Regions from separate parts of the Homo sapiens genome. Here region 1 is linked to region 2. Evidence: fine-mapped expression QTL. A gene starts in region 2. The other region holds a variant in brackets. All regions are shown on one strand. Distances are from middle to middle. Region 1 overlaps BCAS4 (breast carcinoma amplified sequence 4). Region 2 holds the start of BCAS4 (breast carcinoma amplified sequence 4).

The links. PIP is the estimated chance that this variant, and not a neighbour inherited with it, causes the effect. A credible set is the group of variants that fine-mapping cannot tell apart.
Region 1: its variant is the best candidate, but not a certain one, in a credible set for the expression of BCAS4 in whole blood (TOPMed, PIP 0.85).

The regions. Positions count from the first base shown.
Region 1 is chr20:50,876,313-50,881,643 of GRCh38, reverse strand. It overlaps BCAS4 (breast carcinoma amplified sequence 4), which reads right to left. Exons shown (of 5, transcript NM_198799.4): 5 at 4,467-5,158. The coding sequence ends at 5,036. Among named protein-coding and RNA genes, the nearest start is that of ADNP-AS1, 52 kb to the left of the region's middle. RefSeq lists enhancers at 1,263-1,762, 1,763-2,264, 4,923-5,331. The variant C/T (reference allele first, on the strand shown) is at 2,855.
Region 2 is chr20:50,791,865-50,797,203 of GRCh38, reverse strand. It overlaps BCAS4 (breast carcinoma amplified sequence 4), which reads right to left and starts at 2,143. Exons shown (of 5, transcript NM_198799.4): 1 at 2,031-2,143. The coding sequence starts at 2,120. RefSeq lists a silencer at 1,591-2,410.

The DNA.
Region 1 (5,331 bases), 84 kb before region 2:
TTTAATCCTTGCCAGCCTGAAATGTGAAAAATCTCAGGGTATTTTTCCATACTTATTGGCATACATTAAGGTTGAGTATCTTTTCATGTTTTGCATTTTCTGTGAAACTCCTGTTCATAGCCTTTGCCTGTTTTGCTACTGTTTCCCTTTTTTGTAGGTGACATTTTTTAGGGAGATTATCCCTTTGTAGCATGAGATGCAAATATATTTTCCCAATTTGTCATCTATCTTTTGAATTTGCTTAGGATTTTGTTGTTTTGGGATTTTTTGGTTGAGTTTTCCGTTGGTTTTGCCATGCAGAAGTTTAAAAATTTTATATAATCAAATTGACCTCTTTTATGGCTTCTCGATTTTGTACACTTCGCCAATGTTTTTAACCTATTTCTTCAATAGATTCGTTTTATTTTACTTTCTAAGACAGGGTAACACTTTGTCACCCAGGCTGGAGTGCAGTGGCACAATCTCAGCTCACTGCAGCCTCAAGTTCCCTGGCTCGAGCAATCTTCCCACCTCCCACCAAGTAGCTGGGTCTATAGGCAAGCACCACCATGCCTGGCTAATTTTTCTATTTTTTACAGAGAAGGGGTTTTGCTATGTTGCCCATGCTGGTCTTGAACTCCTGAGCTCAAGCGATCCACCCACCTTGGCCTCCCAAAGTGGTAGGATTCAGGTGTGAGCCACTGCACCCGGCCAATAGATTCATTTTATACATTAAGCTCCTAATCGATTTACAATCCAGGTGTGCTGAGTGAGGTATGGAGCTCTATTTTTTCCAGAAGTTTACCCAATTGTCACAACATGAAAACATCTTAAAACAATTCAGGGCAAACCACACATTTCTGCCAATCAGATACAACCCCATGGGCTGCTACCTTGAAACCTCTTGCTTTGGTGAGCACGAAGTTCACATCCGCTGGGAAAGTGGGAAAGGGGGTTGACCGAAGAGCCTTGCTCTTGGGAAGAAATCTGCAGTGACCTTTCTACTGGTGTCCCTGTCCAACATCAGCCACAAAAGAAAAAGACTGGCAGGCCTCGGTGGCTCACGACTGTAATCCCAATACTTTGGGTGGCCAAGGTAGGAGGATCGCTTGAGCCCAGGAGGTTGAGACTAGCCTGGACAACATAGCAAAACCCCGTCTCTGTTTAAAAAAGAGAAAGATCAGATCACCCTTTCCTAGGCTGCAGTTACCCTTACCAAGGGGTTAGAGGCCATCAATAGTCAGCAACCGAGGACATCATTGACTGGACAATGGAAATGTCAGGCACTTTGCTTTAATGAGGACGCACATGAAGTCACCTGGCACAGGGACAGTGGAGCCGCTCAGAGGACTGAGGTTAGGGGTTGGTGATGGCAGGGCGCAGTGTCCCGGCCTTCCTTCTCCCCAGATGTTTCCAAGCGTCCCTTAAAGCTCATTGTTTGGCAGTGCAAATCCTAGGAACTTTGGAACGGCTACTTCCAGTTCACTTGTCACCTTTTCCCCATAGATTTCCTGTGCAACCTCACCCCTCCTAACAGGACAGGGAAACCCAGAGAGAGCAGCCTCCATTCTCCCATGACTTCTAACTCTGACACGTAAGGGCAGTCCCTGAGTCACTCGCTGTTCAGGCCCTCGGATGCCGCTGGTCAACTGAGAAACGCAGGACAATCAACCCTTTCCCCATCACAGCCCGGGCCCTGCAACAGCAGCCTCCCATTACTGAGAGCCCCTCGCCAGTGTGCCCAGCATGCACACAGCTCACCTCATGTCACCCTCACCACAACCCATCAGACCAGAGCCATCCTCATGTCTTACCGCAGGGGCAGCTGGACTCAGAGAGAGCAAGTGAAAAGCCCAGCTCACACAGCTAAGAGGCATGGGAGCGGACAGTGCTGCCAGGCAGGCTAACCTCAGGGCCATGCTCCTAGCGTGGGGCCTGTGGGTCCCTGCTTTAGGACACTCAACGTTGCTGCGGCTTAATCACATGGGATTTCCTTCCAACTCTCCCTGGCCCCTGTTTCAGGGGCTGGGAGGAGAAAGAAGCCTGGGAGTGCCCAACACTCAGCAGATACTCACCCTTCCGGAAATGAGTGTCCTCAACTGCTTGTCTAAAAAATTAACATTAGCTTTCTCCTTTTTCTTCTTTTTTGAGATAGGGTCTCGCTCTGTTGCCCAGGCTGGAGTGCAGTGGCACGATCTTGGCTTGCTGCAACCTCCACCTCCCAGATTCGAGCGATTCTCCTGCCTCAGCCTCCCGAGTAGGTGGGATTACAGGGGTGCACCACAGCACCTGGCTAATTTTTGTATTTTTAGTAGAGATGAGGTTTCACTATGTTGGCCAGGCTGGTCTCGAATTCCTGACCTCAAGTGATCTGCCCACCTTGGCCTCCCAAAGTGCTGGGATTACAGGCGTGAGCCACCTCACCCGGCCAACTTTCCATCCAACGTGTGCTCTCCCTGAGCACACTGGGGCATGCAGAGTGTCCAAGCTCCCTTCGATAAAAACAGTCCCAGCCAATACAACACAGCCATGGGAATGATCTACAGTGACACAGCAACAGTGACACCTCCCAAGGTAACATCAAGCCGGTGAGGCCAGAGACAAGAGATGACACACCGTAGGTACACATCCCGTGTGTCCTCTCTTTATACAGAGCACAGAAACAAGAAACTCCAGTCCATATGGTTAGATGTCAGTATGCTGTCAGCCTGGGGTGGGGGTGGGTATGGGCATGGACCAGAAGCGGGCATGAGGGGGCTGCTCAGTGCTGATAATGTTGGTTGCTCAGTCTGGTGAGGCTTAAATAGATACACTCAGTTTGTGAAAAATTTAGTGAACCACTTAGGCACCCCTTTCTGTAATATAAATTATACTT[C/T]AATAAAGGTTTGTGCCAACACTACATTTTGGGAGGCCGAAACAGGAGGGTCCCCTGAGCCCAGAAGTTCAAGACCAGCCTGAACAACATAGGGAGACCCTGTCTCTACAAAAAATAAAACAAATTTGAAAAGTTGCCAGGCATGGTGGTGCACATTTGTGGTCCCAGCTACTTGGGAGGCTGAGGCAGGAGGATCACTTGAGCCCAGGAGCTTGAGGTTTCAGGGAGCCATGATCACACCACTGCACTCCAGGCTGGGTGACAGGTGTCTCATTTAAAGAAAAAAAAAATTGTAAAAGTCACCTCAATAAAAAAATGCTGACCGGGCATGGTGGCTCACACCTGTAATCCCAGCACCTTGGGAGGCCAAAGTAGGAGGATCACCTGAGGTCAGGAGTTCGAGACCAGCCTGACCAACATGGCGAAACCCCGTCTCTACTAAAAATACAAAAATTAGCTGGGCGTGGTGGTGTGCTCCCGTAATCCCAGCTTCCTGGGAGGCTGAGGCAGGAAAATAGCTTGAACTCGGGAGGCGGAGGTTGCAGTGAGCTGAGATCATGCCACCGCACTACAGCCTGGGTGACAGAGTGAGACTCCATCTCGAAAAAAAAGAAAAGAGAATAAAAATGCTGACTTTTCCAGAAACAAGGGGTCTACCTATATCTCTGAATTCCAAAAATTGTCTAAACTATTTCCCTGCTTTTCTGTTTTTAATTTTTAAAAACATTTTTAGCCAAGATCTCACTTGGTTACCCAGGCTAGAGTGCAGTGGCACAATCATGGCTCACTGCAGCCTCAACCTCCCAGGCTCAAGCAATCCTCCCACCTCAGCCTCCCAAGTAGCTGGGACCACAGATGTGCACCAGCACGCCAGGCTAATTTTTGTATTTTTGGTAGAGATATGGTCTCATTATGTTGCCCAGGCTGGTCTCAAACTCCTGGGCGATCTGCCTGCCTCGGCCTCCCAAAGTGCTGGGATCACAGACATGAGCCGCTGCACCTGGCCTCTACTCTATCTTGCCAGATTCATTATTTTAGGCTTCCTTGAAAAACTTTTTTGGGGTGTGGGGGACAGGGTCTTGCTCTGTTGCACATGCTAGGGTGCAGTAGAACAATCACGGCTCACTGCAGTCTTGACCCTGTGCATAAGCGACCCTCCTGCCTCAGCCTCCCAAGATGCTGGGATTACAGGCATGAGTCACCTTGCCCAGGCAGATTATCTTGAAATTCTAATGCAGATTTACAGTTCAGTCCTGTATGTGCATAGGGGAATTATGTGTGTGTTCTTGGCTCTTCGAGGAATTCCAGAAATACCCATTGCAGGTTGAAGCCACAGTGAGAAATCCGGAGTGTTAGGACAATAGCAGGAAACTCATCTGCATGGGAAGAAATGTGGGTAAACAAGCCTTTGAAGACCCTGGGGGTCCTAATGACCTCTGCACTCTTGCTGGAAATCCAAAGGCCGGGACTACCCCTCCCTCAGCTGGAGCCTCATCAGCAGGTGCCCAGGATCAGGCCCTCGCAGGTGAGGCACAGGAGGAACCTTCTAGAAAACACTGCACAGGTGAAAAGGAAACTATCACTCCCCGTCATTCTCACACCAGACCAGGGCTGAGCTCTTGACACCTTTATTGGAAGGATCCTCAAGGCTGTGGGCACCGAGGTCTGGAGGCAACAGAAGCAGCATCCACCCACCCACCACAGTGGCAGAGCACACCCCGTGCAAAAACCCATCACAGAGAGAAGGACCATGGAGCCCCTGCAAAGCCATCATGGAGAGAAGGAAAGTCCCCACTGTCCATCAGCCCCGGCCAGGCCTGGTCCCTCAACCCCTGTAGAACCCCAAGCAGGCCGATGTGGGAGGCATCACCACACGTGGGTTCCAACTGCTTCTCCAAACCCTGTGGTCTCACATGAGGCAGGGAGGAAATTTGAAAATGGCAGCAGCCTGGGCACGGAGGCTCCTGCCCATAATCCCACCACTTTGGAAGGCCAAGGTGGGTGGATCACTTGAGCCCAGGAGTTTGAGATCAGTCTGGACAACATAGTGAGACCCCATCTCGACATTTTTTTAAATATTTTTAAAATATAAAATAAACAGCAATACAAAGAAAAAACCCCCAAGCTGCAGTGTGTACACAATGTCACTTTCCAGCGTTCCTGATGGGAAGACCACAAAGCTCACAAAGGCCGAGGGCAGGTGCGGGGGTGGTGCTGTGCTTCCCCGGCGTCCACAGGAAAATAGTCCTCCGTCCTATACAGTGTGGGCAGCTCGTACGTCACGGGCACCGGTGCAGGTGACTTCTGGAATGACAAGAAATGAAGCTCTATCAGCGATTTGGATCCACTTGTTCCATGACCCAGGAATTCCCGGTCTACAAGTTCATCCTGCAGGACTCACACATATGACCAAAGACTCTGAGCTCCTCTGACAGCACTGCCTGTGACAGCCAAAGCCGGCCACCCAAAGGGACCAA
Region 2 (5,339 bases):
AGAAAAGCAAGTTGCAGGACAGTATTACAGCAGCAAGTGAGGTTTCATTTAAAACTAATATAGATGGGCCAGGCATGGTGGTACATGCCTATAATCCCAGCACTTTGGGAGGCTGAGGCCAAAGGATCTCTTGGGCCCAGGAATTCAAGACCCGCCTGGGCAACATAGTGAGATCTCGTCTCCACAAAATAACTTTGTTTTAAAAGTTAACCTGACATGGTGGTGCGCACCTGTGGTCCTGGCTATGCGGGAGGCTGAGGTGGGAGGATCACTTGAGCCCAGGAGGTTGAGGCTACATTGAGCTATGATTGTGTCACTGCACTCCAGCCTGGGTGACAAAGTGAAACCCTGTCAAAAAAAAAAAAATTAAAAACGTCTGTTCAAAAATTATTTTAAAAATATGTGGAGATGGCTGGGCGCTGTGGCTTACGCCTGTAATCCCAACACTTTGGGAGGCCGAGGAGGGTGGATCACGAGGTCAAGAGATAGAGATCATCCTGGCCAACATGGTGAAACCCCGTCTCTACTGAAAAATACAAAAATTAGCTGAGCATGGTGGCACACGCCTGTAGTCCCAGCTACTCGGGAGGCTGAGGCAGGAGAATTCCTTGAACCTGGGAGGCGGAGGTTGCAGTGAGCTGAGATCATGCCAATGCACTCCAGCCTGGTGACAGAGCAAGACTCCATCTCAAAAAAAAAAAAAAAAAAAAAAAAAATATATATATATATATATATATATATATATATATATGGAGAAAAAGAAAAAGAAAAAAGAGAAAACTCATATATATGTATATATATATATATGGAAAGATATTTTATGGTTTTTTTTTTTGAGAGGGAGTTTTGCTCTTGTTGCCCAGGCTGGAATGCAATGGCTGATCTCAGCTCACTGCAGCCTCCGCCTCCCAGGTTCAAGCGATCCTCCTGCCTCAGCCTCCCAAGTAGCTGGGATTACACACCCGGCTAATTTTTGTATTTTTAGTAGAGACGGGGTTTCACCATGTTGGTCAGGCTGGTCTCGAGCTCCTGACCTCAGGTGATCCACCCGTCTCGGCCTCCCAGTAGTGCTGGGATTACAAGCGTGAGCCACCAGGCCTGGCGAGATAGATTTTTTTTTAAATGTCTCACTCTGTCGCCCAGGCTGGAGTGCAGTGGCATGATCAAGCCTCACTGCAGCCTCACTCTTCCCCGTCCCCTATCCCCATCCCAAGCAATCCTCCTGCCTCAGCCTCCCAGAATGCTGGGACCACTGGCATGAGCCAATACTCTGCCTAGGCAGATACAGATATCTACATTTGTAAATGCATTTTAAATGTCCGGAATGATTTATACCAAACAGTTAATGCTGGTTTTCTAAGAAAACTAGAATTGGGGTGGGAGAGAAAAGAGAAAGGGGTGCATAGCCTTTATGTTAAATACTCCTGTACTGCTTTTGTGGTTTAAAAAGAGAATGGGTTGAATTTCTGACCGTAAATAACTCCTAGTGAACTCAGACAAATAACTTTTTCACAACAGCGTCGACAGATGCCTCCAGCCGGAAGGTAGAGGGTCTCGTTTTAGATCTGCTTTTCACTTGGTGCTTTTAAAATAGAAAGCGCAGACAGAGGCGTGGTGTTTTCGCTCCGAGCTGCAGCAGCGCAGCGCGGCCCGCACAGCCGCAGCCTGAGGCGCCGCTCGGCCCGGGCACCGCTCGGAGGTAGCCGGGGCAGCAGAGGTCCCGGGGTCCGCCTCTCCCAGGGCCGGCCTGGCAAAGGGCGGCGCCTGAGGACCCGGCGGATGCTGGGGGACCCGGGTGGGGAGGGAAAGCGAGCCTGGGCCTCCGGGGCCCGGTGTCGCCCGGAGGAGCGAGCAGGGACGACCCGCTGCACATCTCTGCGTGGCGCCCCGCAGCCACCCTTCAGGAAGGGGGGAATCCCCGGGCCCCCCACTCCGGGAGCGAGAGGATGCTCCGGGGAAGCCGAGGGTCCGGAGCCCGGACCCCTAACCGCGAGAACCCTCTCCTCCAACTCCACAGCCCCGTCCCCTACCTCGGCCCCAGGCTCGGGGGTCAGGAAGAGCGCGAGCTCGCGCGCCCCGCTGCGCATGGGCTCCGGCTGATCAGCGTCCACGAGCAGCATCAGGAGGGCGACGGGGTCCGGCTGGCGGAGGCTGCCTGGGAGCCCGTGGTTGCGCCCGGGCCTCGGAGCCCCGCCCCCGGTCCGCTGCATGCCCCGCGGACCGCCTGGCGGAGGCGGGGCAGGTGCGCTCCCGGCGGTCGCGGCTCGCAGCTCCAGGAGCGCCGGGCCGAGCGGGCAGCGCCACCCAGTGGCGAGCGGCGCGCGCTGCGCCCGCCCCCGCAGCACCTGGGCATCAGTGCTTTGCAAACTCGCTTGCAGATGGCAGTCACCTGGAGCTCTTTTAGAATTTCCCAAGCCTGGACCACACCGTCTCTGGGTTAAGACCTGGGCATCAGGATCTTTTGATGTTTGTTAGGTGGTTCCAACCAGATTGTTGACCCAAAGCTAAATTTGAGAACTATTGGGGCAAGCCACCCCTCCCCATCGGAATCCCGGTAGAGTACAGGCTCCCGGCCCCGGACCCGGCCGTAAAATAGAATCCCCGGGAAGCTTTTAAAAGCCCGGAAGCCAGGCCTCGCACCAGGCCGATTAAGTTGGAATCCTTCGGAGTGGGGCTTGGGCATCGGTAGTTTCTAAAACTCCCCGGGTGATTCTAACGGGCGTCCGGGTTAGAGAGGCGCTAGCTTAGAGGAAGCCCAAAGCCGCCCGCCCCCCACCCGTTCCCATCCTACTAAAGCATCTAGTTTGCATCGGGCGGAGGGTCCTGGAATTTAGGGAAGGCCGAGTGTGACGGTCCTCGTCTTCCTCTTCGGTGCGGATTTTAAAATAAACTTCACCAGGAAACTATTGAGCGCACTACATTTCACAACCGCACCCACTCCCTCCATGCCCTCGGAGGCCGGCCTAGATAGACCCTTTACAAGCCTTGGGGCTGAAGAGAGCGAGGTGCGCCTCATCTCCCACCCCAACAGTGCTAATGAGGAAAGTACTAAAAGGCAAATAGGTATAAGACAAGTCTGAAGTTTTGATTTTTCGTTTGATGACTTATTTTTATTTTTAATTAATTAATTTTTTTTTTTTGGAGACGGAGTCTCGCTCTGTCGCCCAGGCTGGAGTGCAGTGGTGCGATTTCGGCTCACTGTAACTTCCACATTCCGGGTTCAAGCAATTCTCCCCCTCCCTCAGCCTCCCGAGTAGCTGGGATTACAGGCGCCTGTCACCACGCCCGACTAATTCTAATTTTTGTATTTTTTAGTAGAGACGGGGTTTCGCCATGTTGGCCAGGCTGCTCTCGAACTCCTGACCTCAGGTGAGCCACCTGCCTCGGCCTCCCAAAGTGCTAGGATTACAGGCGTGGGCCAGCGCCCCCTGCCTGCTGACTTTTCTTTAAATGTTAAATCGCCTCACAAAAAAAAAAAAAAAAAAAGGCTGAGCTGCTTGGGCAAACATAAGGAGACTCCATCTCTCTAAAAGAAAAAAAAAAATTAAAATTGCAGGATGTGGTGGGGCACAACTGTAGTCCTAGCTACTGGAGAGGCAGATGCAGGAGGATTGTTTGAGGCCAGGAGTTCAAGGCTACCGCGAGTTATGATCGCACCACTGCACTCCAGCCTGTGTGACACAGTGAAACTCTGTCTTTTGTTGTTGTTGTTGTTTTTTAAAAAGGAGGGGCTGGTATCAAGGGTGCAAATAAATATATAGGACGTCCCACACCTTCCTCTCCATTAAATCTGAATTTATATTGTAGTTGGCCACCCTAGGTAGGGGCCTAAACAACACATGTTTGACCTGCCTTTTGTGTAGTCCATCACTGCACAATTCCCACTTCCAAATCTGTCCACTGCTAATTTCTCCCTATCCAAATATCCAGGCCTTCAGGCCAGTCATTTTCTGGAAAATTCTTGGCAAAGACTTGGGCCTCAAGTGCTTAAGGGTTTTATAGGAACTCACTGAGCCCACACTCGGCCATTCGTCATTGTCATGATTTCCCTGATGCTCTGAGCCCTCCTCGCCATCCCCTGGGAGCCGGTCTCAGACCCTTGCCCTTGCCTGCTGGCTAGGCATCTCCCACAAAGAGCCCAGGACTGGCCTCAGATCACCAAATTGACCTGAGCACAGCAAACTTCTCCTGGTGGATAAATCTCAGAAACATAAAGCTAAGGAAGAAAAGTCGTGTTGCAGAAGGCTCTGTAGGGCACTGTGCCATTAGCACAGTTTTTAAAACACGCAGAACCACACTGTATATTGTTTATGGACACCGACAGATGGAGCAAAAGTACAAAGCTGTGCATGGGAACGACGTACCCCATGTTCCAAAAGTGGTTACTTTAGGGCGGGGGAGAAGAAACTGGAGAGGGGTATGGGAGGGAGGGATTTCTTTTTCTTTTCTTTCTTTCTTTCTTTTTTTTGTTTTTTGACAGAGTCTTGCTTTGTTGCCCAGGCTGGAGTGCAGTGGCACAATCTCGGCTCACTGCAAGCTCTGCCTCCCGGGTTCAAGCGATTCTCCTACCTCAGCCTCCCCAGTAGCTGGGATTACAGGAACAAGCACCACCAAGCCTGGCTAATTTTTGTATTTTTAGTAGAGACAGGGTTTCAACATGTTGGCCAGGCCAGTCTCCAATTCCTGGTTTCAAGTGACCCACCAGTCTCGGCCTCCCAAAGTGCTGGGATTACAGGAGTGAGGCACTGCACCCAGCCCAAGAGGGATTTAATATATATATATTTTTTGAGACAGAGTCTCGCTCTGTCGCCCAGGCTGGAGTGCAGTGGCACGATCTCAGCTCACTGCAACCTCTACCTTCCAGGTTCAAGTGATCCTCCTGCCTCAGCCTCCTAAGTAGCTGGGATTACAAGCACATGCCACTACGCCTAATATTTTTTTTTTTTTTGAGACGGAGTCTCTGTAGCCCGGGCTGGTGTGCAGTGGCGCAATCTCGGCTCACTGCAACCTCCTTCTCCAGGGTTCAAGTGATTCTCCTGCCTCAGCCTCCCAAGTAGCTGGAATTACAGGTGCCCACCACCACGCCTGGCTAATTTTTGCATTTTTAGTAGAGACGGGGTTTCACCATGTTGGCCAGGCCGGTCTCGAACTCCCGACCTCAGGTGATCTGCCCGCCTCAGCCTCCCAAAGTGCTGGGATTACAGGCATGAGCCACCGCACCCAGCTACGCCTGACTAATTTTTGTGTTTTTAGGAGAGACGGGGTTTTGCCATGTTGGCCAGGCTGGTCTTGAACTCCTGACGTCAGGTGTTCGGCTGAGAGGGATTTCAATATTCGGA